Linked DNA regions of Homo sapiens: regions 1 and 2 are each linked to region 3. Evidence: fine-mapped expression QTL. A gene starts in region 3. Each other region holds a variant in brackets. All regions are shown on one strand. Distances are from middle to middle. Region 1 has its middle 30 kb from the start of DUSP1. Region 2 overlaps ERGIC1 (endoplasmic reticulum-golgi intermediate compartment 1). Region 3 holds the start of ERGIC1 (endoplasmic reticulum-golgi intermediate compartment 1).

Region 1 (10,415 bases), 34 kb after region 3:
TGGCTAACACGGTGAAACCCCGTGTCTACTAAAAATACAAAAAATTAGCTGGGCGTGGTGGCGGGCGCCTGTAGTCCCAGCTACTCGGGAGGCTGAGGCAGGAGAATGGTGTGAACCCAGCAGGCAGAGCTTGCAGTGAGCCGAGATCACGCCACTGCACTCCAGCCTGGGTGACAGAGCAAGACTCCATCTCAAAAAAAAAAAAAAAAAAAAAAAAAAAAAAAAGAAAGAAAAGAAAATACAGAATACAGAAGAGGTGATGAAAGGATAAAGATGCTGGTAATCTTATCATTGGGTGGATGCAGTATTAACCTCCCCTCTGTTCTGCCACTCCACACCCCATGCTCTGGGCACCCAGGACATAATTCCCTGCTAAAATATCCCCAAATCTATTTCCAGGGCCTACCTAGGCCTCTTTCCACATCTGATCTAACAAGAGTAGACCTAGGGCTGAGGGATGACCAAAGGGCAGCTTTAGGGGTGAGAGTGCGGGCAAGACAAGTTCAGGCTGGGCTGTCCACACAGCTTCCCAGAGGCTGGATCAGGGGCAGGAAGGGAAGGGGTAGGCAGGGATCGAGGACCTCCTTTTGCTCTCTTTCCCTGTGTCCCAAACTGGGAGTGACAGGTCTGGGTGGGGGTATGATTACTGTCTCTCTAAAACCGACATACCTCCAAGGAAGAAATTGTTCAAAAGGGTGGCAAGTGGTAAGCTAAAGCCCCTGAGCCTTCCCCAAGGTAACACCTGTAGAGAGTTTTTTGTGAGTCTGAGCAGGCCCCCAGGGAAGTCCTGGAGGACCGTAGCATCCCAGTTTGGCCCTCAGCCCACTGTTTGTTTTGCCCAGTTCTCAGTCTCTCAGCTTTGGAAATGTTAGGAAGAGAAAGGAGAAGCAAGGCGGCCAGAGTGCTGCGGAGCTGGGAGGGGCGTTTGACAGACAGCGCAGGGTGGGGCGTCAGGGATGCCGTGGACAGAGGAGCTTGGGGAAAAGAGAAGGGGCACTTAAGCGAAGTTTTCAGAAGCCTTGATGGGCCTTGTGTGGTGCAACACCCTCCTCCATCTCTAAAGGAAAACAGCAGTAAAATCTATGTGATTGAGACACTGGGTTCTGGCAATATGGTGGACCTGAACATATATACTCCTTATATGTATATTTCATAATAAAGAAAATACTTTTTAAAATCCACATGTTTGGCAATACTATAGGGTTGAATTTGTGGTTTGGAAGGAGATGGGCTCTGGTGGGATTGACCTCAGTTCAGCAGGAGAGCAGCTGAAGGAGCCAGTACCAAGTGGGTATTGAGTCTGCCTGTCTTCCTTCCTTCCTTCCTTCTTTCCTTCCTTCCCTCTTTCCTTCCTTCCCTTTCTTCCCTTCTTTTCTTTCTTCTGTTCCTTTCTCTTTCCTCCCTCCCTCCCTCCGTATCTTCTTTCCTTCCTTCCTTCCCTTCCTTCCTTTCTTCTGTTCCCTTCCCTTTCCTCCCTCCCTCCCTCCCTCCCTTCCTGCCTCCCTCCCTCCCTTCCTTCGTCCTCTCTCACTCCCTCTCTCTCTCCCTTCCTCCCTACCATCTACCTATTATCTGTCTATCCTTATCTATCTATCTATCTATCTATCTATCATCTATCTTCTATTATTATCTATCACCTACTCACTTTTCATGCACAAAATGGATTATGCTGTTCTGCAACCTAATTTTTAAATTCAATGCCATCTCTTGGACAGCTACATCAGCCCATGATGATCTGTGACATCCCTTCCAAAGTTGGCTGCATGTGTTAGGAGACATATTCTTGAAGGTTGAGGAGATACTATGTCCACATGTGGCTTCTGGGCTGGACAGGCCTGCGGTCATCCATTCAATTTTTTAAAAGGGCATTTGTTGGATTCTTGAAGTAACCTCCCACCCGGTCTCCTTGTCTCCCTGTGAGAGTTTATTCTTGGTACAACACACAGAGTGATTGTGTCTCTCTCCTGCTCACAACCCTCCAGGGGTCCCCATCTCACTGGGGCCCACAGGCCTGCCCTGCAGCATCCACATCATCTTCTTGGGGTCTTCACTCCAGTGTCATGTTCTCACTGACGTCTTCCCTGGCTGTCATGTTGAAAATGGCAACCCCTCTCCACCCAAGCACCCTTCCCCATGCTCCCCTGCTTTATTTTCTCACCACAGTTACCTGACATAGCCTATATCTTACTTACATGTTTGCTGTCTCCCAACTCCCCTACACGCACCCCAGAATGCCAACTCCACAAGACAGAGATTTTTGTCTGCTGGTTTTGTTCTATGTTTTTGGCTTTTTTTTTTTTTTTTTTTTTTGAGTCAGGCTTTCACTCTGTCAACCAGGCTGGAGTGCGGTGGTGTAATCATAGCTCTCTGCATCCTTGAACCTCCAAGGCTCAAGCGATCCTCCTACCTCAGTCTCCTGAGTAGCTGGGACTACAGGTGTGTGCCACCACACCTGGCTAATTTTTGTATTTCGTGTAGAGACAGGGTCTCGTTACATTGCCCAGGCTGGTTTTGAACTCCTGGGCTCAAGCAATCTTCCTGCCTCAGCCCCCCAAAGTGCTGGGATTACAGGTGTGAGCCACTGCACCTGGACTGTCTGCTGTTTTTAAATCTCAGTTATCCCCAGAATCTAGAACAAGCCTGGCACATCAGGCATGGCTCACTAGATACTTGTTGAGGTGAATTGAATCTAGAAGCTGATTTCTGCAGGCGTGTTGCCTCTTGGCTTGTTACAGAGGGAGAAGAACTTCCCATCATTAAACCGTCTACCTCTGACTCTCCTTGTTCTAAGTTGGATTATTCCCCCTTATTACCATTCTCCCAATTTGTCTCACATTTCATCATATTTAGAGCAGTTAACAGTTGGAATGCTCACCATCTCGTTGGATCCCCCACGATCTTCTTGGTAGAATCTTGGTTGGATCTTCTTGGTAGAAGAAGAAATGATTATTGTTGAGCTCTATACTGTTACTCCCTGCTTAAAACTCTCCAAATGAAGGACATCATGCTAAGTGAAATAAGCCAGGCACAGAAGGATAAATTCCGTGTTCTTACTCATAAGTGGGAGCTAATAAAGTTGATTCCATAGAGGTGGAGAGTAGAATAGTGGTTACCAGAGGCTGGGAAGAGAAGTGGGCAAGGAGGGGTAGGGAATGGCTGATTAATGGGTACAAACGGTTAAATAGAAGAAATAAGTTCTGATGTTCTATGGCACAGCAGGGTGACTATAATTAACAATAATTTATTATTTATTTTGAAGCAGCTAGAAGAGAGGATTTTGAAAATTCCCAGTACAAAGAAATAATAACTGTTTGAGATGATGGATATGTCAATTACCCTGATTTAATCATTACAGGTTGTCTGCATGTATTGAAATATCACGTGTACCCCATAAATATGTACAATTATATATTAATACCAATTAAAAGTTTTTAATGAAAATATTAGAAAGATCACGAAAAAAGTCATCTTAATAAGTCACAAATGAATTTAAAAAATAAAACCTCTCCAAATGGTCACCAACTCACTTAAATGAAAACCAGATACTTTAGCCAGGCACAGTGGTGTGTGGCTGTAGTCCCGGCTACTTGGGAGGCCAAGGTGGGAGGATCCCTTGAGCTCAGGAGTTTGAATCAAGCCTGGGCAACCTAGGAAGATCCTGTCTCCACAAAAAAAATTTCTGAAAAGGTACCTTATCAAGGCCCCTCTTCCCAACAGTGCTCCAGGTGCACTGGCCTCCCTCCATGTCCCCAGGCTGCTGACACTTGCTGTACCATCTACCTGGAATACTGTCTCTATTAGCTTTCTAAGGTTGCCATAACAAAATCCCATACACTGGATAGTGTGTGATAGTGAAACAACAAAAGTTTATTCCTCACAGTTCTGGAGGCTGAGAGTCCAAGATTAAGGTGCCGGCAGGTTTGGTCTCTCCTTGGCTTGCAGATAACCATTTTCTCACTGTGTCCTCTGAGGGTCTTTTCTTTGTGCTCACGCATCCTTGGTGTCTGTCCTAATCTCCTCTTCTTATAAGGACACCAGTCATTGGATTAGGGCCCACTGTGATGACTCATTCTAACTTAACTGCCTCTTTAAAGGCCTTATCTCCAAATACATTCACATACTGAAGTATTGGGGGTTAGGGCTTCCACATATGAATTTTGAGGGGGTAGCAATTCAGTCTATAACACTGTCCCAGTTCTTCAAAAGCCTGGTTCTAGCTGGGCATGGTGGCTCACACCTGTAATCCCAACACTTTGGGAGGCTGGAGTGGGAGGATCGCTTGAGCCCGGGAGTTTGAGACTAGACTGGGCAACAAAGTAGGGCCCTGTGTCTACAAAAAAACACAAAACAAACAAACAAACAAAATAAAAGTCTGATTCCTTCCTCCTCAGGATCTAAATATTAGCCTCAGGTGACTTCACTTCCTGGAAGCCATCCCTGGTCACCCCCATCCCATCAGTCCCTCTGTACCATAAGGCCCTGCTGATTTTTTCCCTTATGTACAATCTATTGTTACCACATTTGCCTATCTGCCTACTTGTTTATTGTCTATATCCCCTAGTGGTATCCTGGCAAATATTTAACATCGGCTTTTGGGTGCAGGATGGTTGTGGGTAGTGGGGAGGCTGCCTTACAGCGTCTGCCAATTTCTGTGGTGTAAACATACCCACTGTGGCCAATTTCAAACTACCAAAGTGATGTCACATGGCTGTCCAAATTCCTGAAAATCTAAAACAACCTGTTCTTGTGAGCAGGTGCAGTCTGGCTCCAACTCTCCCACTACCAGGTAGACTCCACTGAGGGCAGGAGCCTTGCCTTCTTCTTCGTAGTCAAGTCTCTAAGGTCTAGGACAGTTCCTAGATCAGAAATATGGCTCAACAACTTGAATTCATTCTTGAATGAATAAGTTAAATTCTTAATCCCAATCTGAAGACCTCCCATGAGTTTGCCCTTTTGGCCACCCTCATCTCTTTGCTGGCCCTTTGGCTGCCTGGGCCCCTTTACTCCCCAGATGTTGTGGTGCACCCCTGGCTATGTCCAGGTTCCCCAAAGGCCACATGTCCTTTCACTCCTCTCTTCCCAGACAGCCCTGAACCTGGATGACTTCTATTAGCCTTCCAGATGCAGCTGATGGCAGGCAATGTTTTTCTTAGCCCTGTGGGGTGACACGATCCCTGGGCTCACCAATTCCCTGGTGCCACCTTCTCTCTGGCCCCTGATCATGGTGGCTGCTTCTTCCTCTGCCTCCCTTGGGGCTCCTGACCCAATTTCCTGGCACACAGCAGGGCTCATGTGAGTAAGTGAAGGCATATGGCAGAATACCAGTTATGGGGCAGGGGTAGAATTGGTGCGGTGGGGAGTACTCACCTACGGCACAATTTGACCAAAGGCTGTACTCGCCCTGAAAGAATGAAGAAATTCTCCATTCATGAAAGTATGAAGAAACTGATGAGCAATTAAATGCCTGAGCCCAGAGTAATGATGATTAAGGAATGCTGGAAAAGGCATGATTACAAGGCTCTGACAGCATTTGAAAGTTCTAAGTTCCAGTGAGTTCAGGAGAGTGCTTTGGGTGGGCAGGGCCTGACTGTTATCAGAGGATGCTAGGCCCCTCGTTCCTGACCCATTAGATCACCAAGAGCTGAGAGTAAGGCAAGTTGTCACCATTTGTGCCCCACCTTACCTCACTGCATTTTTTTTTTTTTTTTTGAGTGGAGTCTCATTCTGTCATCCAGGCTGGAGTGCAGTGGCACTATCTCGGCTCACTGCAACCTCCACCTCTCAGGTTCAGGTGATTCTCCATCTCAGCCTCCCGAGTAGCTGGGATTACAGGTGTGCGCCACCATGCCTGGCTAATTTTTTTACATTTTATTTTTAGTAGAGAGGGGGTTTCACCATGTTGGCCAGGCTGGTTTCGAGCTCCTGATCTCAAGTGATCCACTCACCTCGACCTCCCAAAGTGCTGGGATTACAGGTGTGAGCCACCGTGCCTGGCCCTCACTGCCTTTTGAGAAGCAATTTGACCTGAAGGATGAGAAGGACCATGGGAAGATGTGGGGAAGGGGGTTCTTGCTGGTGGGTTCTTAAGGCAGGAGAGTGTGTTCTGTAAAATGGGATAACAATAAAGATTGCCTCCTACAGTGACAGAGAGGATGAAATGAGATATCATCAGCACAGTGCTTGGGACAGAGCTTGGCTTCCGGTAAACACTCACTGAATGCGGGAGGACAGTGTTCGCATGCGTTTGGCCACCAGAATGTCACCTTCCTGAGGCAGGGTCTCTATATCTGTCCCAGCTATATTTCCAGAGCCTAGAAACAGTGCCTGGCACCCAGTCGGCACTCAATACATGCTTGTTGAAGGCATGAGTGAGCTGATTACATAACCATCTTC[T/C]GGTAACAAACCCAGGGAGAGAGCTCCAGTGCCCCGGCGCTTGGTTCCCACGGCTCAGTGCCGCAATCTGTTTATTTCCCCACTCACCCTGCGCAGCCCTAGCAGGCAGTGACTGCACAGAGCTGATGACTCGGCCTAGTACTTCTCTAAATGCTGCCTGGGGCTGGTGGAATCTCCAGGGCCTGGCTCATCAGGGTGAGCTGATGACTTGGGGCCCAGTGCGGCCCACTTTCCCGTTAGCTCAGCCCGGGTCAGCGGGCTGGCTCAACCTTCGGGTTCTGTCCGGGGAAGGGAACAGAACATTCGGCCCCAGGCAGGAAAGACGTTGCACAGGCCCCTGAGAAGCGAGCCCTGGCCTGTCCCACTCCACTGCCTCTCTTTGTTTGTAGCTCACTTCTCTCCTCCCTCTGACCCTGAGGCTGCCCTCATCCTGGAAGATGATGGGGCTGTCCCGAGGAATATAGGCTTAGAGCTGGGGGCAAATTGATGGACGATCTAACAGTACCAATGTGCTGGACCCACGCTCAATCACTTAACTGAGCACTTACTCTGTGTCTGTTCCTATGCTAAATGAAAAGGTTGAATTTCACTTACTCTAAAGAAACACCCAACTATTTCCCAAATACTCTGTTCTTTGATGCCGCTCGGCCTTCACATGGGTTGTTCTTGTTTCAAATGCCTTTCCTGGTAAGTACTCAACCTTCAGCACCCAGCTCCTCTATCACCTCCTCTCAAAAGCCTTCCCCAGCTCACCCAAGACAGTAAAACCACAGTCTTTCCTGGGACCCCCAACATTTAGGCTTGCGCGTCTGTCTCGCACTGCGCCGTGGCACCTCCAAAGCCCAGGCTGGGCTCCATTCTTCTCTTGATCCTGGGGGTCCTTCTCCATGCCCAGCACACAACAGGGGCACTGCAGATGTTGGCTCCTCCCTTCCCAGTCCCTGGCCACTTCCTTTCCATCTCTGTATGCCCCTCGTCCCTTTGTCTGTGTATCATATTTTTGTTTTCATTCTAAGAACAATGCTCATCCTGTTATAGTTATTTGTTAATGTAAGTGGAATGACACAAATGAATCAATGACATTTGTCATTGTCTGGCAGGACACCACACAGGAGGTGTTCAATTATTTGCCTAATAGAATCCATGGTCACCTCCAGCAAGAAATCATCAGAATAGGTAGAGAAGGAGAGGATGAGGCCAGGACAAGGAGGAGAACAGAAGGTGCTGGAACTAACATTTTCTGACCTATGTGTGTCAGGCGTGTTTCATTTATTTCTCACCATAATCCTATTATGATCACCCTTCTTATGGATGGAAAATGAAGGCACAGAGAGGTGAGGTGACTTGCCCAATATCACACAGCAAGTGAGTGGCAGAGCTGGGGTTTGAGCCCCGTCTACCAAGCCCCACCCGTTGGACAGGGAAGGTGGAGTGTGCCTGTCGCAGAAGAGTGCGCAGAGAAGCAAGGAGAGACTGCAAGACACTGCAGGGAGAATGAATGGGTCAGACCCAGACCCCGGGCTGCACAGTCCCTGCCTTCCAGATGTTCTCTGTCATGGCTCCCCGGACAGATGCCCCCTGGCCCGTAGAACCGCCCCAGACTCCTCCAACACACTTAACCACTTTCCGTGGAGACCACTGTGCTTTTCAAGGAGCTTTTTTCTAATATTGACCCCAACCTATACAGTTCCCTTTCACTCCCTGGACCAGGGTTTGGGTTACCTTAACCCCTCAGGATTGCACAACGCCCACTGAAGGCTTCAGGAACCCACAACTTCTCAATAATGCTGAACTGGGTGAAATTTCCCAGTAGCCACCTCCTCCGCCTGACTAATGCTTCTTAGCTTGGCAATGCAATGTCCTATTTTTAAGGAACCCAGTCATTTGGTTTAGATTCTTTATTTGTTTTATTTTAATGACCTTCTGAATCATTCATTTTTCTACTTTTGAACTGATTCACTCTTCGCCACTTCCTTGTATAGAAATCCAACCCCTCCTTTAGGGCTCAGCACCAACACCCACCTTCTCCCGAAAATTATCCTCATACCATCCTCTCTCCAGGAAGAAGTATTCCCTCCCTCTCCCATTTCTGTGCCATTCATCTGGTATTTATTATATTGTCATGGTCATTATCATAATGATAATAATAATAATAATAATGATATGCCAGCTACTTGGGTCATTGCTTTTCATTTTTATCATGACCCCAGGAAGAAAGTGATTATTATTTACATTTTACAGAAAATGAAACTAAGCCTCAGGGAGTTTATACCTTTTGCTCAAGGTCACACAAAGTAAGTGATGCAGCTGAGGTGCTAGCCAGCTGAGCCCAACTCTGAAGCGAGTGTCTTGAAAGGCAGCTGTTTGCATGGGGTGCCTGGTACTGTGATGGGGGCTTGGGATGATTGCGCTTGGGGCTGTGATTTTGGTTTTGATGTCTGTCAACCCCCGCTGGAGACTATGAGCTCCACGAAGTGTTCTGTTTCCTGTTGCACTGTAAGTAATCAATATCTGGGAGCAAATAGCTGATGTTCCATAGACATCGACCCATGGCTGGAGGACTTCCTGTCCTTTCTATAGTGTTAGCAGCTTGAAGCCTTACACAGTTTTGCATTTCTTACAACATCAAGTGCTGGGTAGCAATCTTGATCAATGCTCATTGAATGAAGGAAGTAAGGGACAGGCATGGGCTTGGGGGCTTCCAGTGAGCTTATTTTCTAGCTGAAAACATTCGGTAGGAAATTTTCTAGAATGATCTCTATAGCTCAGGATGAATACTGTCAGATAAGACCTCCTCATCACTTTTTTCAAGTTAAAGTAACAGAATTTATAGACTAAGGGTTCAGTTGAGTTTAGGCAACACACATTTATGGATGTCTACTGTGGGCCAGACGCTTCACTCAAAGACAGCTGTGTGAGCAACCAGCCAGGCAGAGGGCCTTTGGGTGTCCACCCTCGCTCTCACTCCTTCTGGGAGGCAAGCTCCCTAGTGCCCTGAAAACAGGCAGAGTTGGAACCTTGGAAACTGGGGGAGAGAGGGGATAATAGCCATGTCTGGTCAAAGAAGACCAAGCAGTAAAGATCTCAACCTCGTCTGGGCACGGTGGCTCACGCCTGTAATCCCAGCACTTTGGGAAGCTGAGGTGGGCGGATCACAAGGTCAGGAGTTCGAGTCCAGCCTGGCCAACATGGTGAAACCCCATCTCTACTAAAAATACAAAAATTAGCCAGGCATGGTGGTGCACGCCTGTAGTCCAGCTACTCGGGAGGCTGAGGCGGGAGAATTGCTTGAACCCGGGAGGTGGAGGTTGCGGTGAGCCAAGATGGCACCACTGTACTCCAGCCTGGGTGACAGAGCAAGACTCCGTCTCAAAAAAAAAAAAAAAAAACAAAAAACTCAACCTCCCAAAGGCCCCTGAGAAAGGAAACCAAGCAGCAGTGGGAGACCTGGAGGCTGGCTCATCTCTCGTGGGGCATGAAGAGGGCGGGCCTTGGCCACCAAGGGGCCACAGAAGAACTGGATGAGGTGGAAGAGGTCTAGGAAGGATAATAAAAATGAGAGGCCAGTTGGAGGTGGCACATGGAGACAAAGAGGTCCCCTTATCCTTCAATTTCATGCTTTTCTCCTCAAATTCTGTCTTGTCTGCCATCCATATTGCTAGCCCTGCTTTCTTTGTGTTTGTGTTTTCCTGATACTCCTGTGCCCAGCCTTTCACATGTAACCACGAAGGGATACTTTGTCTCTGGTAGGGCTTCTGTTACCAGCATCTCATTGGCTTTTTGGTTTTAGGGCCCAAATCACAAGCTTCACCTTTTGATAGGAGTGGTCTCTCGGGGAAGCAGAGAGCCCAGTGGTTAAACCTGGCCTCTTGGAGCCAAGCTGCCTGGGCTGGACGGTCACCTGACAATCTGCTGACATCTATGGGGCCTCTCCTGTTTCCACCCTAAGGACAAGGGAGAGCATCCCCCCTTGGCAGGCCACGTGACAAGAACATTCCATTGGCATGCAAGGGACCCCCACA
Region 2 (10,415 bases), 99 kb before region 3:
ATAGCATTCCCTTTCCCGGGCCCTTCCTCCTCAGCTCAAGGCCCATCACAGGGTTCTATTCTTAGAGCTTCCCAAACAAAGGGGATGGCGCCCTCTTGTTTGCCTGCAGTGTCTGGCGCACATCTCCACTAGAGCCGGTCACAGCTCCCTGTGCTCACTCATCTGCCCCTCCAGCAGGGGGCTCCTTCAAGGCAGGGACTGCGTATGATTCAGCTGACCCTGGTGCCTGCTACGGGGGCCGGAACATAGTGAATTCTAGCAAATGTTAAGTGAATAAATGAAGTTGCTTCATTTCTCAGCCACTTGCCAAGTGATTTCTTTTTTCTTTTTTTTTTTGAGATGGAGTCTCACTCTATCGCCCAGACCCGAGTGCAGTGGCGTGATCTCGGCTCACTGCAACCTCTGTCTGCCAGGTTCAAGCAATTCTCCTGCCTCACCCTCCCAAGTAGCTGGGACTACAAGCATGTGCCACCATGCCCGGCTAATTTTTTGTACTTTTAGTGGAGATGGGGTTTCACAATGTTGGTCAGGCTGGTCTCAAACTCCCGACCTGGTGATCCGCCCGCCTCAGCCTCCCAAAGTGTTGGGATTACAGGCGTGAGCCACCGTGCCCGGCCGATTTCTTTTTTTTTTTCTTTTTTTTTTTGAGATAGAGTCTCGCTCTGGTACCCAGGCTGGAGTGCAGTGGCATCAGCTCAGCTCACTGCAACGTCCGCCTTCTGGGTTTCAAGGGATTCTCCGGCCTCAGCCTCCCGAGTAGCTGGGACTACAAGTGCCCACCCCCATGCTCAGCTAATTTTTGTATTTTAACTAGAGACGAGGTTTTGCCATGTTGGCCAGGCTGGTCTTGAACTCCTGACCTCAAGTGATCCCCCGCCTCGGCCTCCCAAAGTGCTGGGATTACAGGCATAAGCCACCGTGCCCGGCCATTGCCAAATGATTGTAATGCCCAGAGTCTCAGCTGCTTTCCATACAGGAGCAAACAGAAACGGGGACAGAAAAGAGCCTTCTGAACCCTACTGTGAGGCATGGCTGGAGGGGGTTTCTCTGCTATAGTCAATGTACAGACCCTAGGGCCTCTGAGGAGTGGTCTAGACCTTCATGGAGGCACCAGGGAACCTACTTGTATCTTTGTGTGTGGCTTATCGTGGGTGTGGAGTAGGAGAGCTGCAGTAAGAATCAGCACCAAGACCCACTTGGGGTGTGCTACCCTGCGGGGTCTTGGGTTAAATCATTTGCTCACAAATCCCCTGATTTTTTGGGTCCTGGGGTTTGTGCATCTCCCCTCAGGGTAGCTGTACCCATGTCCCTGCACACCAATAGCACATGTGGGTTCCCAGGGCTTCACATCTTCCCAATCTTTGTAGTAGCAGGTTTTCAATTTCTTTCTTTTTTTTTTTTGAGACGGAGTCTCACTCTGTTGCCCAGGCTGGAGTGCACTGGAGTGATCCTGGCTCACCGCAACCTCTCCCTCCCAGGTTCAAGTAATTCTCCCACCTCAGCCTCCCAAGTAGCTGGGATTACAGGCGCCCACCACCATGCCCCGCTAATTTTTGTATTTTTAGTAGTGTTTTGTCATGTTGGCTAGGCTGGTCTTGAACTCCTGACCTCAGGTGATCTGCCCGCCTCGGCCTCCCAAAGTCCTGGAATTACAGGTGTGAGCCGGGCAAGTTTTCAATTTCTGTCAGTCCAATAGGATTCAACTGGGTCTTTTAATTTTTTTATTTTTCTGAGACCGGGTCTCACTGTTGCCCAGGCTGGAGGGCAGTGGCGCCATCATGGCCCACTGCAGTGTCAACCTCCCACGCTCAAGCAATCCTCCCACCTCAGCCTCCCAACTAGCTGAAACTACAGGCATGCACCACTATGTCTAGCTAATTTTTTAACTTTTCTTTTGTAGGGAGGGGGTCTTGCTGCGGTGACCAGGCTGGTTTCAAACTCCTGGCCTCAAGTCATCCTCCTGCTTCCACCTCCCAGAGTGCTGGGATTACAGGTGTGAGCTACCACGTCTGGCCTGAATTGAGTCTTGTTTTAAATCCCATCCCTCCAATTTCTAGTGAACTTGGGCATCTTTTCACTGCCAATATCACCTCCTCTGTGAAGAGCTGGTCCTTGGCCTTGTCTGCTTTTTTGGTTGTTAACTTTTTCTTACTGATCTGTAGGAGTTCTTTACATATGAATTCTGAAGGCTACCCCTTTCCCATTTGGATGGCAAGTATCTTTTCCCAGGCTGCGTGTGAGATTTTTGCTTTATGTTATGTGCCGTTTGTTGAACAGGAGTTTCTAACTTTTATGTGGTCAAAGAGAACAGCAAAAAACTGTTCTGAGGCTCATGTAAGCACCAGACTTATGACACCCTTTGTATCTCTCTGTCTGTTTTCTGGGGATTTTTGTTTTTTAGAGAAAGGGTCTCGCTCTGTTGCCCAGGCTAGAGTGAAGTGGCACGATCATGACTCACTCTAACCTTAAAATCCTGGGCTCAAGTGATCCTCTCACCTCAGCCTCCTAAGTAGCTGGGACTACAGGTGCATATACCACCGTATCCAGCTAATTTAAGAAGATTCTTAGAGACAAGCCTTCACAATGTTGCCCAGGCTGGTTTCAAACTCCTGGCCTCAAGCGATCCTCCCGCCTCAGCCTCCCAAACTGCTGGGACTACAAGTGTGAGCCACTGTGCCCCGTCCTACTTGGCTTTTCACATCTGCAAACAGCTTCTCCTTTCACAATCTCCTCTGAGTCCCACAAGGCCCTGGGAGGTGGCAGGAACAGAGATGATCGTTCTTACTTCACAGATGAGAAGGCAGAGACCCTGTCACAACATCCCACTGTTCTGCCTCCTGGCACCCACTCTTTCCTCTTCCAGTAGCTGGCCCCTGCCTTTTCTCTTGAGAAACCTCATTCCTCACAATCTGTGTCCCTGCGGTTTGGATGGGGTTGACACCAGAGAGGGTACAGGGCCTAAGCCTGGCCAACCAGAGCATTTGATTTCCCAGGCCACAAGGATGGCATGAGGCCTGAGCTGGGCCAGTGAGAGCTCTGTCCTATCTAGGACTTGGTTAGAATGACTGAGAAAGAGGCCATTTCTACTGGTAAATTCTACTTGAAGATGAAGCCAGTGTAGCGGAAAGCAGATCCGAAGATAGAGACCTACTCCTGGCAATGTTGGAGGCTGGATCCAGCCATGCCTGAGGCCTTCTACTCCTCAGGCCAGCTCAAGGTCTGGTTCTGGATCTTCGGTAACAGAGTCCTGACTAATACTGACCTAGTTATTGCGGGAAATGAAAGAGCCAAGGCCCTTGATCTTGAACCATCATTACAAGCATGAAGAAGTACAGAAGCATAAGGGCCTCCCAATGCCATATTTATCTTTAGGTCTCAGTTTCCAAATCTGTGAAGTAGGGATAGCCACCCTGTCTCTTCCACCTCAGCTAACTCTGGCTTCTTCAGTACCTCCTGGGCCTCTTGGGTGAAGAAGGGCACCCTGACCCTCCTGTTCTGACCCTAAGGACCTTCTGAATGGGAGGCCAGGAAACAGTAGACATGATAGAAATAATCAGCATAAAGGAAAACTAACATCAGCTTGAATCTGCCCTAGAGAAAACTGGATGTGGTAGAGACCATGGCAAAAAAGAGAGAACAGAGAGGAAGGAAAGGGAAAAATCGGACCCTATCAGCAGCTATAACTGGAAATTAGACCTGGAAAAAAAAATGAGTTCAATCTTTGGTGCAAAATTTACACATTAAAGGATAAACTCTGCTAAGAATAATTTCCATAACAATAAAAAGCTGGAGAAAATCCTAAACATCTAGTGGAACCATATGGAGATTTGCTTCAGGAATTAAATGGATTTCAGGGCATTCCCCTCTGGAAAATACTTTCTAGACAAAACGTCATCGATACTGATGTGTTTCTGACAACATTTCTCAGCATCCTTGGGGTCGAAGCCTCCTGTGCCCAGCCAGAGCCCCTAGCCCTGCAGGCTGCCTCCTGTTTCAGCGAGAACAGGTGAGGGGTGCCAAGGAAAGGGGCCCAGAGCAGGCGCAGGGTGGCTGGCTCAGGGCCCCACCCACTGCCCCAGGCCACTCACCGTGGTGATGAATCTGTACAGCGGCTGCCGTCTCTCTGTGTACTTGACCGTGATGGGGCTGAGGTCGTAGCGGAACCAGATTGCAGGGATGATGCGGCCCGTGTGGCTGTAGGCGACGTATTCCTGGGGTAGAGGATATAAGAATCAGAAGTACAAACTGTGTCTCAGGGGGGGCGGGGACTGGATTGCAGAGGGCCCCCCAGCAACCCTCCAGAAAGGGCTTTCCTCCCTCTCTGCCCCACGAAGCCAGACTCCCCCACTCCCTCTCTCACATCCCTTCCCCTGGAGGCCCTGAACTCTGCCGTGCACAGCTGGGCATTTTTGATACCCTTGGTTGTTTAGAAATTGACCAAGTGAGCTGCAAGCAGCACCAGAATCAGAAAATAAATTAGAAAGCAGAGCTGTAAAAGGAAAAGTGCAATTTTTGGCTATTGCCTCCTTCAACCTCTGGGCCACGCGAAATCCATTCATTTATTCAACAATGGTTTGCTGAACGCCTCCACTGTGGTGGCCCATGGCTGGCTGCTGGGGACCCCGAGGTGAGCAAGTCCTGCCCTTTACCCAGAGGGAGTCGCAGTCTGCAGAAGGAGGAAGACATAAGAATATCCCTAACACTGTGACATCATGCATGTGGGATGGAGGAACATGGAGAGTTGAGGGGAATGAATGAATGACCCATTCTCCCGGGCGGCATCTGGGAGACTGGGGAGGGGACATTCTGAGCCACACATGATGAATAAGCAGGAGTCCCAGTGTGTGTGTGTGTGTGATGGGTGTAAATGCCACGTGGGGAGTGGGCTAGCTTCTTCAGAGGAATAGACTGAACTGCAAAGCCAGAAGGCCCCGCCCTGCCACCAACCTTCCTGAGAATGCACACAGCAGGGACTAAGGATACTACGAGGCTGAGCTAACAGTGCATCCTTGGGCCAGCCCCTCCCTCCCTCAGGGACTTGGCTTCCCCATCTAAACACGGATGGGCCTGGGATGATGATCCCTGGGATCTCTCCAGTTTGGGCACTTCAAGGTGCTAAAGTCTGCAACAACTGGAGGCCAAATTGAACCACTGGGGTACCCCCAACCCCACATGCTGAGCCTGAGGAGCCCAGGCCACTCCGGGGGTAAGTAACACTGAGCCCTGACCTCCCGCTGGGTCGCTGCTGCCTGCTCCCAGGGCAGAGTGCGGCTGCAGCCATAGAGAAGCTAAGCAAGCTGTATTTGGCTGCTGGGCCTTGCCAAAGCATTGGGAAAAGGAGCTTTGTGCAAGGGAAGACCAGCTTTCTCCAGGAGAGCTGCTGGGGCAGGATGACTGTCTGGGTCACAACCCAGAGCTGAGGGACAGAGAAAAAGAGTGAAAAATAGCAGCAGTCAGTATCACTTACCTAAAGGCTTTTTTTTTTTGGTGGGCTAGGCATTTTTGAAAACATTGCCTCATGTGACAGCACTCTTATAAAGTATCATCTCCATTTTATGAATGAGTAAACTGAGGCACACAGTGGCTATGTGACATGTCCGGGGTCAATAGCTAGTGAATGACTGAGCTGGAATTTGAACTGCAGCGTGGTCCTGAGCTTGCATCTGTGCTT[T/C]TCCATCTGTTAGCTGCTATGAGCATGTGAGGGTTACAATGAGATGCCCCCTGTGAAACAGTGAATAAAAGAAACAGGGGCTCCCGGGAACATCAATTTAGGGTGAGTCAGAACAGAGGGACTAAGTCATTGGACAGAGAGCAGCTCGCAGGTGGGCAGACTCACAGCCCCTTCCTCAGACCGAGGCGTGAGGTGATCAAGAAGCCAGGCTCTGGAGCCCAAGGAAAACCTGTTCTAATCCCCACTCAGCCACTTTATAGCTCTACAACCACCTCTCAGTGCCTCAATGGTCAAATCAACAAAATGGGCTCAATAACAGTCTCAACATCAGAGCTGTCATGATGATTGAGAAGACGGAAGAAGAGAGCTTAGCATGTCTAGCCCCCAGGAAGTACTCAATGAGTGACAGCTATGCCTCCTACTGTTGTTATAATTAACTGAGCTAAACAGGTATCACTTATAAGGGGTTTGGGCAGCCTTGGAACAGAAGAAAAAGGACAGTCCTGGTGGTAAGTGGGAAAAACCCATCCGCCAGGGTCTAGCAGGGGCATTTCAACCAACAGGTTTCAAGTATTCATGTCCCATTGGTGGGATACCCCCAGGGAAGCCCAAGGCTGTCTTGTCTTGAGACCACTAATTGCTGGGTCATCCCACTCTGCAGACTCTGACCATGCTCTGCTGCCCACTAAGGCCTGGCGTCTTCTCCATGACTTTGAGTGTTGGGGTCCTGGGGACACCCCTGTCAATCAACAGCAAATTAATCAACAGCCATCTTGGTGTGACTCAGTAGCCTCATGAGTTTGGGTAAAGTGCCTGTGCCCTGAGAGCAGGAGTGTCTGTCTGTGTTGAGCACCCAGGGGTCTGTGTCTGAAGGACTCGGACCAGATGCAGGGCTGTTTGAGACCTGCAACCCCAGGACCTTTGTAGGACAGAGACTACCTGCTCTTTGTCAAACGCATCACACCCTATCTCCTGGTTAGATCTGTTCTCCTTGACTCTGAGACTGCCACATGGCAGGGACTGGGCTTTTCAATTTTACCCAGGGACAGCGCCTGGCCCAAGCTAACCCCCAGGAAAGGCCTCCAGAAAGGAATCAGAAGAAAGTGCGTCGGTGCAGCCGCCTGTCATCTCTGCTCTCCGTCAGCAGAGGGCGCCGCCGCACACAGCTCGGCCCAGCCACCGCCCGCGCACCTTGTTGGCCACCGTGTACTGGTAGGAGTACCGCTGCTTGCCACTCTTGTCCTCATAAACCGTGGGCACAATCTTCAGGATGTAGTCGTGGGAGGCCAGGGCTGCGGGAAGGACACAGCAGAATGAAGCAGGGGGACGGGCACTGCCCGCTGACAGCTCTATGTCATTTCAATCCTAAGCCTAAATTCCCTGGGCACGGCAGGGGGCTCATTCCCCAGTTTTACCACCAACCAACTGCTCTTCATCTTCTCCCCTTGGATACCGGGAATTGGGAGACTCTATCCATCAGGATCTTTCCTCCTGCACTGTGCACATCATTAAAATTCTGGAAACAACCCAAATGTCCATCAATAGAGCAACCATGAAAGAGTGAGTGTTGGCCAGGCGTGGTGGCTCACGCCTGTAATCCCAGCACTTTGGGAGGCCGAGGTGGGTGGATCATCTGCAGTCAGGAGTTCGAGACCAGCCTGCCCAAGATGGTGAAACCCCGTCTCTACTAAAAATTCAAAAATTAGCCAGGCGTGGTGGCAGGTGCCTGTAATCCCAGCTACTCAGGAGGCTGAGGCAGGAGAATCGCTTGAACCTGGGAGGCGGAGGTTGCAGTGAGCTAAGGTCATGCCACTGCACTCCAGCCTGGGCGATAGAGCAAGACTCTGTCTCAAAAAAAAAAAAAAAAAAAGTGTGGGTGCTAGGAGCAGCTATTCTCCAACAGGGAAAAGAACCAAGTCATGGGACAGGATACACATGTGTCCATGGATTGGGGGAGGAGGAGACACTCTGTATCCATGTAAATATATAGGAGAATTATCTGGAAAGATGCCCAAGGAACCACGGGCAGCTTTAGCTTCTGGGGAGGAAGGCAGGATTTGAGAAAGATCCCATTTCATTGTACATCCTCTGACATTGTCTGAATAGTTTTACTTTTAAAACAAACTAGGTTTCAGTATTAAAAAGAAAAGAGCCTATCAACCAGAAAAACTGCACCAATGAAGCACTGATGAACTGAGAATGGGGAAAGAAATCAACGGCAGATCAGTTCTTCCTGGATGGGGGAGCTGCTGAAGGCAGGGATGGAGCCTTACTCAACTCTGTGTCCCCAGAGCCCCGTGCAGGGCCTGGTACCAAGTGGACCGTGGCAAATGCTTACTGAATGAATGAACGGATGGAAGGATGATTGGACAGGGGCATGAATGAAAGCACAGATGAATCAGCTGCTGATAAGCGTGAGGTAACTGGAATCCAATGCTGGGCTGATAGAATGCTGGCCCAGAGCTGCCAAATATCACTCAGGAAAGGTATGAACTCTCCTGGGCCTTCTGGGATGCTTACAGGAAGCTCATGGGCCTTCCACAATCTCGGGTCACGGACTACAGAGCTAAAATAACACAGAAATTTAGGCCTGTGGGTTCTAAGCCTGGTCGCAGAGTCGAGTCAGTCCTCTTCTGTAAGAAGGCTGGGAATGCAGACAGCATTCACTGCCCTGACACTCCCTCCCTGCCCCTTCCTGCCAAAGCCATATCTCAGTAAGCAAAGGAAGTGCTTCTTGAATTGTTTTGAGTAGGTTCCTCTGAAAACCCGAGAAAAGTCCTGCAGCCGCAGAGCCCAGTCCATGAAGACTCCAACATCCCTCTGTTCAACCCTGTAATGGTTCTCAGATGTCAGAAGCAGTCGAATCATTTGGAATAAAAAGACACCTGGACCTCTTTCCAGGAGCATCCCGCCAAATGGGTCAAGGGTGGAGCTCAGAATTTGCATTTTTAAAACAAGAGCCCAAGACCACGCTTGATAGTGGTGTCCAAACGCCCATTGCCCTAGGTTAAAAACTTGAAGGAATGAAAAAGTGAATGCCTTATCAAAATCACCCCTGTAATATTTCTTGTTAAAATTTGTACAAGGCCGGATGTGGTGGCTCACGCCTGTAATCCCAGCACTTAGGGAGGCCGAGGTGGGAGGATCACTTGAGGTGAGGAGTTCAAGACCAACCTGGCCAACATGGTGAAACCCCATCTCTACTAAAAATACAAAAATTAGCCAAGCCTGGTGGCACACACCTGTAGTCCCGGCTACTAGGGAGGCTGAGGCAGGAGAATCGCTTGAACCCGGGAGGTGGAGGTTGCAGTGAGCTGCCACTGCACTCCAGCCTGGGCAACAGAGCGAGACTCCATCTCAAAAAAAAAAAAATTGTACAAAACACAGGTGATCACCAAGGACAAAACAAAAAATCACCATAAATTCACCATCCTCAGAAAACTATGGTTCACAGTCTCACATATAAACTGCCAGACATGTTTATACATATATTTGTATTTTCCTAAAATAGGACCATACCGTATCTTTTTTTTTTTTTTTGAAACGGAGTTTCACTCTGTCACCCAGGCTGGAGTGCAGTGGCACGATCTCGGCTCACTGCAACCTCCACCCTCTGGGTTCAAGTGATTCTCCTTCCTCAGCCTCCTGAGTAGCTGGGACTACAGGCGCCTGCCACCACGCCTGGCTAATTTTTTGTATTTTTAGTAGAGATGGGGGTTTCACCATCTTGGCCAGGCTGGTCTTGAACTCCTGACCTCGTGATCCACCCGACTTGGCCTCCCAAAGTGCTGGGATTACAGGCGTTAGCCACCGCGCCCAGCCATCTTTTTCTAAGAACTGAACATCATGATCAACTTTTCAGGTCTAAGACACAGAACATAAGCTCTGCAGAGTTTGTTTTATTCATCTCTCTATCCCCAGAACCTAGCCCAATGCCCAGCATATAGTAGGTGCTCAATAAATCTTTGCTGCCTGACTGCCAGTAAGGTCCTGACACACCTCGCTCATCTTGGGCAGTTACCATGCTCAGTCAACCCCCTATGGCTGGACACTGACGTGGTTCCTCATTTTCAATTTTATAAACAATGACCTAATGAACATTATTTTCCTAGATTTTTGTACACTCTCTTAATTATTTCCTTAGCTTACTCTCCTATGAGTACAATTGATGACTCAAAGGCAATGACCATTTTTAAGGCCTTTGATACAATTTGCCAAATGCCCACTGGAGACACTGCAGTTAATTACACCCATGTGGATTCCTTGTGAGCTGACCATTCCTAGAGACTGCTGGCTCCAACCTGGTCTAGGCCAGCCCACATTCCCTTCAAGCTCACTCCTCCTCCCCTACCCGCAAAATCTTCTTACAGAAAAATTCAAACCTAAAACATAGGGAATTGTATAATGGACTCCCACGTACCCATTTCCCAACTTCAGCAATTACCAGCGTATGGCCAATCTTGTTTCATCCCTATCCCGCCACTGGAGTGGGGCCCAGAATCTGCATTCTTAAAACCAGCAGCCCATATATATGTATGTGTGTGTATACTTATATACACACACACACACACACATATATATATATGACAGCCCATATTATGTGTATACATATACATGACAAGCTGGTTTCATTCCAGTTATATCATTCAGGACCAGTTAAACAATTCAGTACCACAATACAAGATACAATTTGATATAGGAAAGTTTCTCCTTAGATTCTGCCCTAGGGGATCTCGTTCCTGAA
Region 3 (10,415 bases):
GTTAAAATACAAATTCAGATTCCAGGTGGGCACTGAGATTCTCCACTTCCAACAAGCTCCAAGGTGCTGCTGAAGCTGGCATCTGGGACTGCACTTTGAAGAGCAAGGTTATTAGTAGAAAGTTACGGCCCCTTACTGTCCACTTCACTGGTGGGGTAACAGAGTTGCCGAAGGTCATGCAGGAGTGATGGGTGGGACGGGAACTCCACGCCCCAGCCTCCCGAGGCAAGGCTCTCCACCGCCACCCGACCTGGCTCCCCTGCTGCTCTCAGCCCTGCTTGCTATTGCTTCTCCCAATTCAGAGCACTTCTCCTCCGTCTTGGCTGTGCATTAGAATCACATGAGAGACTTTAATATACAGCCAGGGTTGAGGCTCACTGATTTAGATGTACCGGGTAAGCCTCACCCCAAATACCCTCTTCACACCCTGCCTGTCTCTCCCACGCCTGACAAAAACTGGCTAGGAGTAACTCCAAATAAAATACGAAAGGATTACCAGATGGGGAATGTAACTTAACCAGGACACAGCTGGCTAAAGCCCTGTCTCCTGCTACTACAGCACCACAGTCAGGAATCCAAACGGCCTTGGGAGGAGAGGACATTCCATCTCATTCCATGTCCCCGCGAGCAGGTAAACATGATGCTCTAAGCTGGAAAACCCCCACTGGTCAGCGTGGGAAAACTGAGCCCCTCGAGGGTGATGCCATTAGCTGGTGTGAGGGTCTTTAAAGACCATTTCAGAATCAGGTATCACGCTACATGAGGCTAGGGGGAAAAAAGTTGATGGCTTTAAGCTTCTTAATGAGCACTGTTGGGTGAGGATTAGTGAAGAGAAACCCAATGAATCCAATTAGAAGAGTTCTCAGTTCTCTCTGAATTTAGTGAATGGAAAAGAGAAAGCTTTAGAGATGAGCCTACAGGACACAGTGGAGCTCTGGTGCCAAATGGCAGTGTTCCAATCCCAGCTCCAGGAACGGGAACGACCGTGTTTCCGAACTCTGTGGCACCTCCACTGGCTCACCTGTAAAGTGGGGTAACAACAGCACCTCCCTTGTAGGACTGTGGAGAATTAAAGGGGCTGATACAGTAAGATCCTTACAACAGTGCCTGGCACTAGCAAATGTTCAATAAACCCGAAATACTGGCCTTTTCACATAATTTTCTCTCTGGTCTAATTTTTATTTTCTTTTTGCCCTGATTTTTAAGGCTATATGTGTATGTGTATGTGTGTGTATGTGTGTGTGTGTGTATGTGTGTGTGTGTTTTGAGATAGGGTCTTGCTCTGTTACCCAGTGTGGAATGCAATGGCATGAACATGGCTCACTGAAGCCTCCACCTCCTGGGCTCAAGAGATCCTTCCACCTCAGCCTCCCAAGAAGCTGGGACCACAGACGCACATCACCACACCTGGCCATTTTTTTTTCCCCATAGAGATGGGGTCTGGGGTCTTGCTATGTTGACCAGCTTGGTCTTGAACTCCTGCAATCCTCAAGCAATCCTCCCACTTTGGCCTCCCAAAGTACTGGGATTACAGGTGTGAGCTACCACACCTGGCCCATATATATATACTTTTTTTTTTTTTTTTTTTTGAGACAGAGTCTCGCTCTGTTGGCCAGGCTGGAGTACAGTGGCAAGATCTCAGTTCACTGCAACCTCCGTCTCCCGGGCTCAAGCAATTCTCCTGCCTCAGCCTCCCGAGGAGCTGGGATTACAGGTATGTACCATCAAGCCCGGCTGATTTTTGTATTTTTATTAGAGACGGGGTTTCACCATGTTGGCCAGGCTGGTCTCAAACTCCTGACCTCAGGTAATCCGCCCACCTCAGCCTCCCAAAGTGCTGGGATTACAGGCATGAGCCACAGCGCTCATTTTATATTTTTTAAAACTTGCTGTAAAGTATATGTTCTTGTCAGCTTCCTTGGAATTCTTTCTGGAAGAAACAGCAGGGTAGAAATACAGGCATTCATGTTAGCTACTCTCTGCTGAATGTTAACTCTGTGCTCAGAGGTCCCTGTGGTGGCTGAGGCTTAGCTTGGTGTAGGAACTGATGGGGCTACCAGGGTCCCATTCCCTATTGGGGCCTAAGGAATTAAGACTGGGCCAGGTGCAGTGGCTCATGCCTGTGATCTTAGCACTTTGGGAGGCCAAGGAAGGAGGATGACTTGAGGCCAGGAGTTCAAGAACAACCTGGCCAACATAGCAAGACCCCATCTCTATATAATTTTTTTTTAAAAAGGAATTCACACTGGATCCTTAGAGCAATGAGACCCATTTGAAGGTTGAAATCAGGACATGAAAATATCAGATCAACTTTGGAAAGCTCACTAGGGAGTCCTGAGGAGGTCTGGGGTATCCTGGAGGGAGAAAGACCACTCAGAAGGCCAGAGTGAAAAATGGTAGAGGCCAAACCAAGGCCCTGCAGCAGGGCCAGCCCCATCAGGGCCGCATGACCTGTGCAGGCACACAGGGTCACACACTCAGAGGGGGGTCCATGCTTGGCTGAATGCGCTGCTGCTGCCGTCCTGAAATTCTTAATACTTTTTCAACAAGGGACTCCACATTTTCATTTTGCACTGGGCCCCACAAATTATGGGCCTCATCCTGCATTGCAAGTTGCATTGCACATTGATCCTGCAAGTGTGCATTGATCACACTTGCCCCTACATCTACTCTACCAGGTGAGGCAGCGAAGTTTACATCCCCTCCTTAAAATGAAGAAATGGAGGCTCCGAGAGGGGAAGTCAATGGTCCCAGAGCACATCTGGTCAGTGCCAGTGCAGCGGCACCCCCGAGGCCTTGGGTTTTCAACATGGGGGCTGTCACTGTGGGACAGCAGCCACCTGCACCTCCCGGAAGGCAGTGCTCAGGCACCACTGGGCCTGGGCACAGGGCTTCCGGATGCTGTTATCTTCCCTCCTCACCCACCCTGGGCTGGTGTGCAGAAGGCAGCAGGTGCTACTGGCCCCAGGCCAGCCGGAACTCGAAACAACACACACGGATGTGGGTCACAAGGCTAGTTCCACAACTGCAACAGCCAGCCATTAGTGAAACAATTTAACAAGAGCAAAGCAAACACAATAAATCATTGAAAGCTCAGCCTCCCTCCCCTGCGTTCTGCCTCCTTCCTTAACCCCAAAAACAACCTAGGAACGGCAGATTCAAGGGTGGAGAGGGGAGATTTCTCCACTAATGGCTGAAAATCTGCCCACTGAAGCTGGCATATCAAGTCACGTCATGTCTATGGCTTCCTTGACAGATTTCAAGAGGCATCTCCAAGGATCGAGTTTGGCTCAAGCACAGTTCTAGGTGCTGGAGATGCAACCTTGAAGAAGCCTGATAAAAACTTCTTGCCCTCAGGAGCTCATGTACTAATGGGAGGGAGAGAGAAGCAGCATGATAATTAAGTGAATTATATAATGTGTTAGGAGATGATGGGTGCTTAAATAAAATGACACAAATAAATATGGCGGCCAAAATGGATGAGGCGCTTACTCTGTGTCTAAATGCTTTCCGCACTGCCTCATCCCTCAACTGTTCTACTTCGGTGAGTACTCTCCTCATTCCCATTTCACAGACAGGAAAACACAGAACTCAGTTGCACCAGGCTCTACAGGCAGTAAGAAAATCAGAAGTATCCGTAGGGAAGGGCAAGAGTGCACTATTTTTCCTGCTTCTGATTTTAAGAAGGGGAACACGAGCAGGACGGCTGGTTTTCTCCCTGGCCTTGAACTGGGGGAGGAGGTCTAATCACGGTATACCCCTCTCCACTCCCCACAATTCTTAAAAGAGCTGACAGGATGGTGGGCCCCTCCAATCTCTCCCTTTTCTCCCAGATCTAAGGCTTTGGAGCTAACAGCCCCAAGTTCAAATCCCAGATCCACCAGCTCATGCACTGCATGGCCAGAGCAAAGGGCTTCTACTCAGTGGAGCTCCCCTCTCCTTTGATTTAAAATGAAGATTAAAACTCCCTCTCTCAGGTGACAAGGGAATCGATGTCTGCACCCCAAAGTGTGTATACAGTGGTAGATGCTCCTTGCGTGCCAGTTCACGCACACCCCCACTCCTGGGACCCCATAAGCCCTCCTCCCTTCTCTTGGAATGCAAAGAGAGCCGGACCACATGCCACCCACCTCCTCACGGTGGGGCCTGTGGCAGAGGGCTGAGCATGGACTGGACACTTGATGAATGCTTGATGAATGCACACTGAAGCGGAGGAAGGTGCATGGGGATGGTCGAACCCTCAGTAGAACCCAGGTCCTGGAGCCTTGAAGTTCACAGAGCTTAAAGAGTGCAGGTTTGCTGGGCACACATGGCTCATCCTCCAAGGTGCAAACGTGAAGCACTGAATCCATTCTCACCATTCCGCAGTGAGCCCAAGCCCTGAGAGTATTTCCTAGTTAAGCTGGGCCCCCTGACACCTGGGCACTCAGGGACCTGAAGTATGCCAAGGGAGCCCCAGACTAGCCAGCTTCTCAGAGCTGAGCATTTCTCTCTTTAAATATCAATGCCTGACACAGGGCCCTTCCAAGGCCAAAGGCTAGAGCTGGCCTTACCCATTTTCCTTACTTCCCTTACCTGCCCCCACAAGCCACCAATTCAAGGAGCACAAGGTTGGGAGCCATGTGTGACCTGAGACCTAAGTCTACCCTTCCCATTTAGCACCCATAAAGTCCAAGATAAGGCCCTCATCCCTGGAGCCTCATTTCCTCCTTGGTAAGACGGAAGGGTGAGGTGCAGGGAGAAAGGATTAAAAGATCAAAAACAGCAATTTCCCCAGCAAGCTCAAAATCACCGGAACCTACTGAATCACACAGGGGCAGGGGGCGGCGGTGGCACGAATCCCTATGGTTGGCCTGGGTAAGGGGAGGCTTTGTGGAACCAGAAATTGATGTGCCGACCACAGCTCTTATGGCCCAGACTTAACTGATGCTATTAGGACTGACCTTGAATTCCACCAGAGGGGCTGTCCTTGTTCAAAACTGCCTAGGTCTGCTAGCCTCAGGGCTGCCCGGCAGGGGCAAGAAGCCGGCAAACATTTGCTAGCTGGTATCAGGGACCCGGACAGGCTGGAAAACCATGTCAACCAATCAAGAGGTCCAAGACCAGTGTCCTCTTTGGGCCTAAACCCCAATATATCCCATGCTATGGGGGTCATGGCAGGCTAAGGGCCTTTCTCTCTGGGTAGACTGTCACTTTACACTGCCTTCACATGCAAGAAGAGGGGAAGAAATACCTCCTGTGGCACAGGCATCTGAATCACTATTTTGTGGATGTGGAAAACCCCTCCTGGAGAACACCCCCCATCCACTAATGCCCTATTTCTGAGCTCTAAATCATGCCAGACTCTGCTAAGGGTGTTTCACGCACTCAGTCGTCACAAGCGGAGACCTTATTTTTAGCCCCAATTTGCAGGTGGTGAAACTGAGGGCGCTCGGAGACTTGCTGAGGTCAGCCAGCCGAGCGGCGACAGGGAGTTCTGAACCCAGAGCCTTTGCCCCTAACTTCTAGAATATACCGAGCTGTTCAGTAGAAAGGGCAGAGCCAGGATTCTAATCCAGCTCCTCCCTGCATTAAAGCCCTGCTCTTTTCCCAGCCAGACACCAAGTGTGGCTGCCTCAGGCCAGGACATCCCCTGGGGCTCCACACCTCAAGGGAACCTCTGGTGGAGATCTCTTCCCCCGCAGGCTTCCAGAATGCCCCATGCAACCTAGACCATGAGGCAGCTGGACCCCACAAAGGACCCATTGTGGTGACTGCAGAAAGCCAAGGCCAGACCCCGGTGGCCCTTCTGCAGAGTCCTGCCCAAGGCGCCTCCTCCCCTTCCCATGGTGCCCCCATACCCAGCGGACAGGGCTGGGGCTGAGGGAGGGAGGGGCGGGGGCAGGCCTCCCGATCTGCCCGGCCTGGGGGAGCCTCAGGCTATAGAAACTTAAAACCCTCCAGCTGCCGGCAGGCTGCATGGGGCCCCAGGCCCCTCCGGACTCATTCCAGGTGCCCTGCCCCACCTGTCAGCTGAGGTGGGGTCCACCAAGGAGGCTCAGTAGAGGGAGGAGAGGGATGCTGGGGTGTTATGGGCTGTTCCCATCTGGGAGGAGGGAGGAAATGTTTCCTAGTGTGGGGGAGGGGAATGCAAGGTATCCGGGCAGGCTGGGGAGGGGGCTCGGCGGAGGGAAGGTGGGTGGATTTGTCTCCCGCTGCACGAGGGGGCCTCCGCGGCTCTGGCTGGCTTCGTGTGCGGCAGGGGGGGGGCTCGCCTGGGGTCCCTAGGGGCCTGCGGAGGCATGCACAGGGCGGGGAGCCGCTTTTGCATGCAGGGCGGGAGGGGTCCGCGGCGTGCCGGGGCGCTCCCTCTGCCCGCTGAGGGAACTCCCGACTGGCCGGGGTCGCCACACTCACCTCCTGAAGTCAAAGGGCATCGTGCCGCCGCCGGGGGTGGGAGCGCTGCAGGCCAGGCGGGCCGCGGCGCCGCGTGGGTCCGAGCCCGCTGCCAACGCCTCCTCCGGCCGCCCCGCCCCCGCCGGCCGCCCCCCTGACACTCGCCACTCGCCACTCGCCACTCGCCTCCCGCTGCCGGGAAGTGACGCTCCGCGCAGCCCATTGGGCGCCGCCCGCCCGGCCGCCCCTTCCGCCACCCGGTTAAAGGGGCCCGCGGGCAGGCAGGGAAGGGGCGGAGAGTCGAGGCTGTCGGAAGGGAAGGGAGTCCCCCAAAGACTCCAGTACTCATTCCTTCAAGCCTCCCACTTAGATTTCCTTCTCCATCTCTTTGGATGCCCTCGGACAAATTCTCTGCTTCTCCGAGCCCAGTTTTTTGCATTTGTAAACAGTTTCACTGAACTGTGATTGAGTTGGGGGCGGGGGGCGGGGTGATACAGACTTTGGCCGTGCACAGCGTCTAGCTCTGAGTGAGGGCCTAATACTGTGGGGGAAGGGAAGAGGTCGGCCATCCTAGGCTGTTAAGGTGGACTCACCTCTGCCCCTGCCGTGTCTCTCTGGGAAAGCCACTGGGCTTCTCAGAGCGCCCCCCCCCCGCCCCGCCCCTTTTGCATATCTGCACAAAGAGGACGATGACACCTACTTGAGGGGGTTTTCCTGGGGATCAGCTGAGAAACAGGAGACTGGCTTAGCACAGTGCCAGGCACCTGAAACTATTGAGGCTGGCAGTGGCTGTCCCTGCTTCCATCTGCCCCTGTCGTTCACTCCAGTGGGCATTCACAGAGCATCTGCTCTGAACCAGGTCCATCGAGAACATGCAGGGTTGTGGCAGAGGCAGATGGGACCTGCACTGTGACTTGGCCAACGTGGACTGTGCCGATTGTCTCCTTCTTAGAGCCTCAGTTTCCTCCTCAGGAATACAGAGCAGCTGCCTCCGTGACTGCTGGATTAGAGGAGATGGTAGTTGAGGTCACACAAGACCTGAGTAGGGGAAACTCACTCTGAACTTCCCCGAGGTTCTGTCACTGGCCCTTTCTCCAAGGTTGTGGTGGGACAGGGCTTCAAAAAACCCAGGGGAGAATGGTGAGGGCTCGGGTTCCAAAAGCAGAGTCAATGGACAGTTTCCCCCTGTGTAAATAGAGGGGAACAGCAGTGCTGGTTCCTCCGGGAGGATTCAGAAGGGACAACACTAGCACGGGGTCTGGGGTAGGGTGACGTGGTGAACCAAAGCCTTCCCCTAGAGCATATGCCGGGACCTGACCTCTGCGTTCCCTTTTCATTCATTCACTCATTCATTCATTCATTCATTCAGTGTCAGTGGTCTGACACTGTTGGGGGAGAAAAGGAAATCTCAGCCTGAACTGGAAACCTAGGGACAGCAGGGAGAGTTAAGGGATCTTGAGCAGCCACTGCTTCCAAACAGCCATTCGTTGGCCCTGTGTGGGAGGAAACATGCAATGATGGATCTTTGACCTCGAATCCTCCCTCCTCAAACTGTGGTCCACAGACCAGCCACATGGCCATCACAGGACAGACTCTTGTCCCCAGGCCAGACCTACTGAATCAAGTGTGCATTTGGGATGATATCCAAGGTCAGCAAATGCCTGGCACAGAGTAAATGCAAGACAGGGTTGACTATCATTGCTCTTTTCGAGTGGGGATAGAGCTCCCAACTTTTGGCTGGGCATGTGGGTGCTCACAGTGAAAGTTGCATTTCCCCAGCTTCCTTTGTAGCTAGATGTGGCATTGAGAAGTAAAGGGAAGTGTCTTGTGGGGCATCTGGGATAGTTGGTATGTCTGCTTTACCCTCTGTGTCCCTTTCTCCATCTGGCTGCCAGGAATGTAGGCGTCACCATCCTGGACCATAAGGTGGAGGCCACCACAGAGCAGAGCAACAAGACAAAAAGAGCCTAAGTTCCTGCCGGGCACAGTGGCTCACACCTGTAATTGCAGCACTTTGGGAGGCCGAGGTGGGCGGATCACCTGAGGTCAGGAGTTCGAGACCAGCCTGACCAACATGTGGTGAAACCCTGTCTCTACTAAAAATACAAAAATTAGCCGGGCGTGGTGCCACACGCCTGTAATCCCAGCTACTCAGGAGGCTGAGGCAGGAGAATCGCCTGAACCTGGGAGGCAGAGGTTGCAGTGAGCCCAGATCACACCACTGCCCTCCAGCCTGTGCGACAGAGTGAGACTCTGTCTCAAAAAAAAAAAAAAAAAACCTGAGTTCCTGTCTCTAAGTGGCAAAATACCTGTCCTCAAACACCTGCCCAAGAGAAACAAACATCTATCTTATTTAAGCTATTGTTATTCTGTATTTTCAGACACTTACACCTAAACCCAATGCTGATACACCTATGCAGCCTGGCTAGCTACTTGACTGCCCCAATGCTCATGGACTAGGCCAGTCCCCTATTACATAATCGCATGGTACCTTGTAGGTTTCCTTGGGAGAACTGGGCATGACGTGTGATTAGGTTATTATTAATTCGCTAGTAACTACTACCCCATCTGAGTGAAAGTTCCCTGAGAGGGGCCTGTCGGGGGGTAGGGGGCTAGGGGAGGGATAGCATTAGGAGAAATACCTAATGTAGATGACGGGTTGATGGGTACACAAACAATGATGCCATACACAAATGGCACGTGTATGCCTGTGTGACAAAACTGCACGTTCTGCACATGTATCCCAGAACCTAAAGTATAATTTAAAAAAAAAAAGGAAAGTTCCCTGAGACAAGGTGGTATCACCATCATATCCTAGCATCCAGCCAGACCCTGCACATGCTGGGGATGCACTAACTATGCGTTGAAGTTTGAATAGAGGCTTCCCAGGGAGGCAGGCCTTCCCACGGAGGCAGGCCTTACCAACAGAACAGCGGATGGGAGGGGAGGTATCAACATGGGCCTCCGCTGTGGGACTGGTGAGGTCTGTGAGCAGACCAGGCTGTCAGTCCCAGATGGTCCATCCACTCAAGAGCCAGTGGGAGATGGAGCTAAGAAAATCAGATTGTGTCTGCAGTACGTGGGAAGGCTCTGGGTCTCTTTGAGCAGGGAACAACAATACAAGTTAAGTTTTCGGATTATCAATCTTGTGGAAGCCTGTGGTAGGTAGCCAGCCTCCAGTGACCCTGATCTCCTGGTATTCCCATGCCCTTCTAGAATCACCTCCCACAATGAATAGGGCTGACCTATCCTGTGTAATCAACAGGATATTGCAGAAACGACAGTTATGACTCCTGTGGCTACGTCACAAAAGACTGAGGCTCTGCTTAGCCACTCTTGAATCACTCGTTCTGAGGGAAGCCAACTGCCTGTCCTAAAGAGGCTCAAGCACGATTATAAAGGGGCCTGGTCGGTGAGGAATGAGGCCTCCCACCAACAGCCATGTGAGTGGGCTCTCTTGGAAGTAGCGGCTCAGCCCCGGTCAGGGCTTCAAAGCTGCATCCCCAGCCCACAGCTTAACCACAGGTTCTTGAGAGACCCTGAGAAACACCCAGCTCAGCTGCTCCCGAATTCCTGATCCATAGAAACTATAAGATAATAAATGTTTGCTTTAAGCCATTAAGTTGTGGGTAATTAGTTACACAGCAGTAGATAAATAACAGAGACTCCATCCTCATTATTTTTTTTTCCTACCAGTAACTTCTCCCTGCCTTCCTCCATCTCACCCCCCGCCAGCCTGGGGAAATAGAAAACCACTTTGGACTCAGATCACTCTCTGCTGGGTGACCTGGACCAGTTGCTTAACTAGCTGGGTGTCTAGGTATGAAATGAAGGATAATAATACCTTACCTGTGGCAGGTAGCCTCTGAAATTGTCCCAATTAACCCACCTCTTGGTATTCATACCCTTGTGTAATTTCCTCCCTTCAAGTGTAGGCTGGACTTATGGACTCATTTCTAATGCACAAAATATGGCAGAAGTGATGAGCATGTTGCTTCTGAGATTAGGTTATCAAGAGATGGTGACTTCTGTCTTGGACA

The links.
Region 1: its variant is fine-mapped to the expression of ERGIC1 in whole blood (TOPMed, PIP above 0.99).
Region 2: its variant is fine-mapped to the expression of ERGIC1 in whole blood (TOPMed, PIP above 0.99).

What each region holds. Positions count from the first base shown.
Region 1 is chr5:172,796,445-172,806,859 of GRCh38, reverse strand. No RefSeq gene overlaps it. Among named protein-coding and RNA genes, the nearest start is that of DUSP1, 30 kb to the right of the region's middle. RefSeq lists an enhancer at 229-1,045 and a cis regulatory region at 3,695-4,603. The variant T/C (reference allele first, on the strand shown) is at 6,394.
Region 2 is chr5:172,928,984-172,939,398 of GRCh38, reverse strand. ERGIC1 (endoplasmic reticulum-golgi intermediate compartment 1) reads right to left here. Exons shown (of 10, transcript NM_001031711.3): 8 at 6,863-6,963; 9 at 4,089-4,211. Among named protein-coding and RNA genes, the nearest start is that of MIR10523, 19 kb to the right of the region's middle. RefSeq lists an enhancer at 7,003-7,072 and a silencer at 8,020-8,089. The variant T/C (reference allele first, on the strand shown) is at 5,672.
Region 3 is chr5:172,830,415-172,840,829 of GRCh38, reverse strand. It overlaps ERGIC1 (endoplasmic reticulum-golgi intermediate compartment 1), which reads right to left and starts at 6,579. Exons shown (of 10, transcript NM_001031711.3): 1 at 6,397-6,579. The coding sequence starts at 6,416. It overlaps LOC124901135 (a long non-coding RNA gene), which reads left to right. Exons shown (of 2, transcript XR_007059054.1): 1 at 1-631; 2 at 3,257-3,480. RefSeq lists enhancers at 3,849-4,840, 5,137-5,346, 4,841-5,833 and silencers at 5,817-5,896, 5,907-5,956, 6,327-6,726.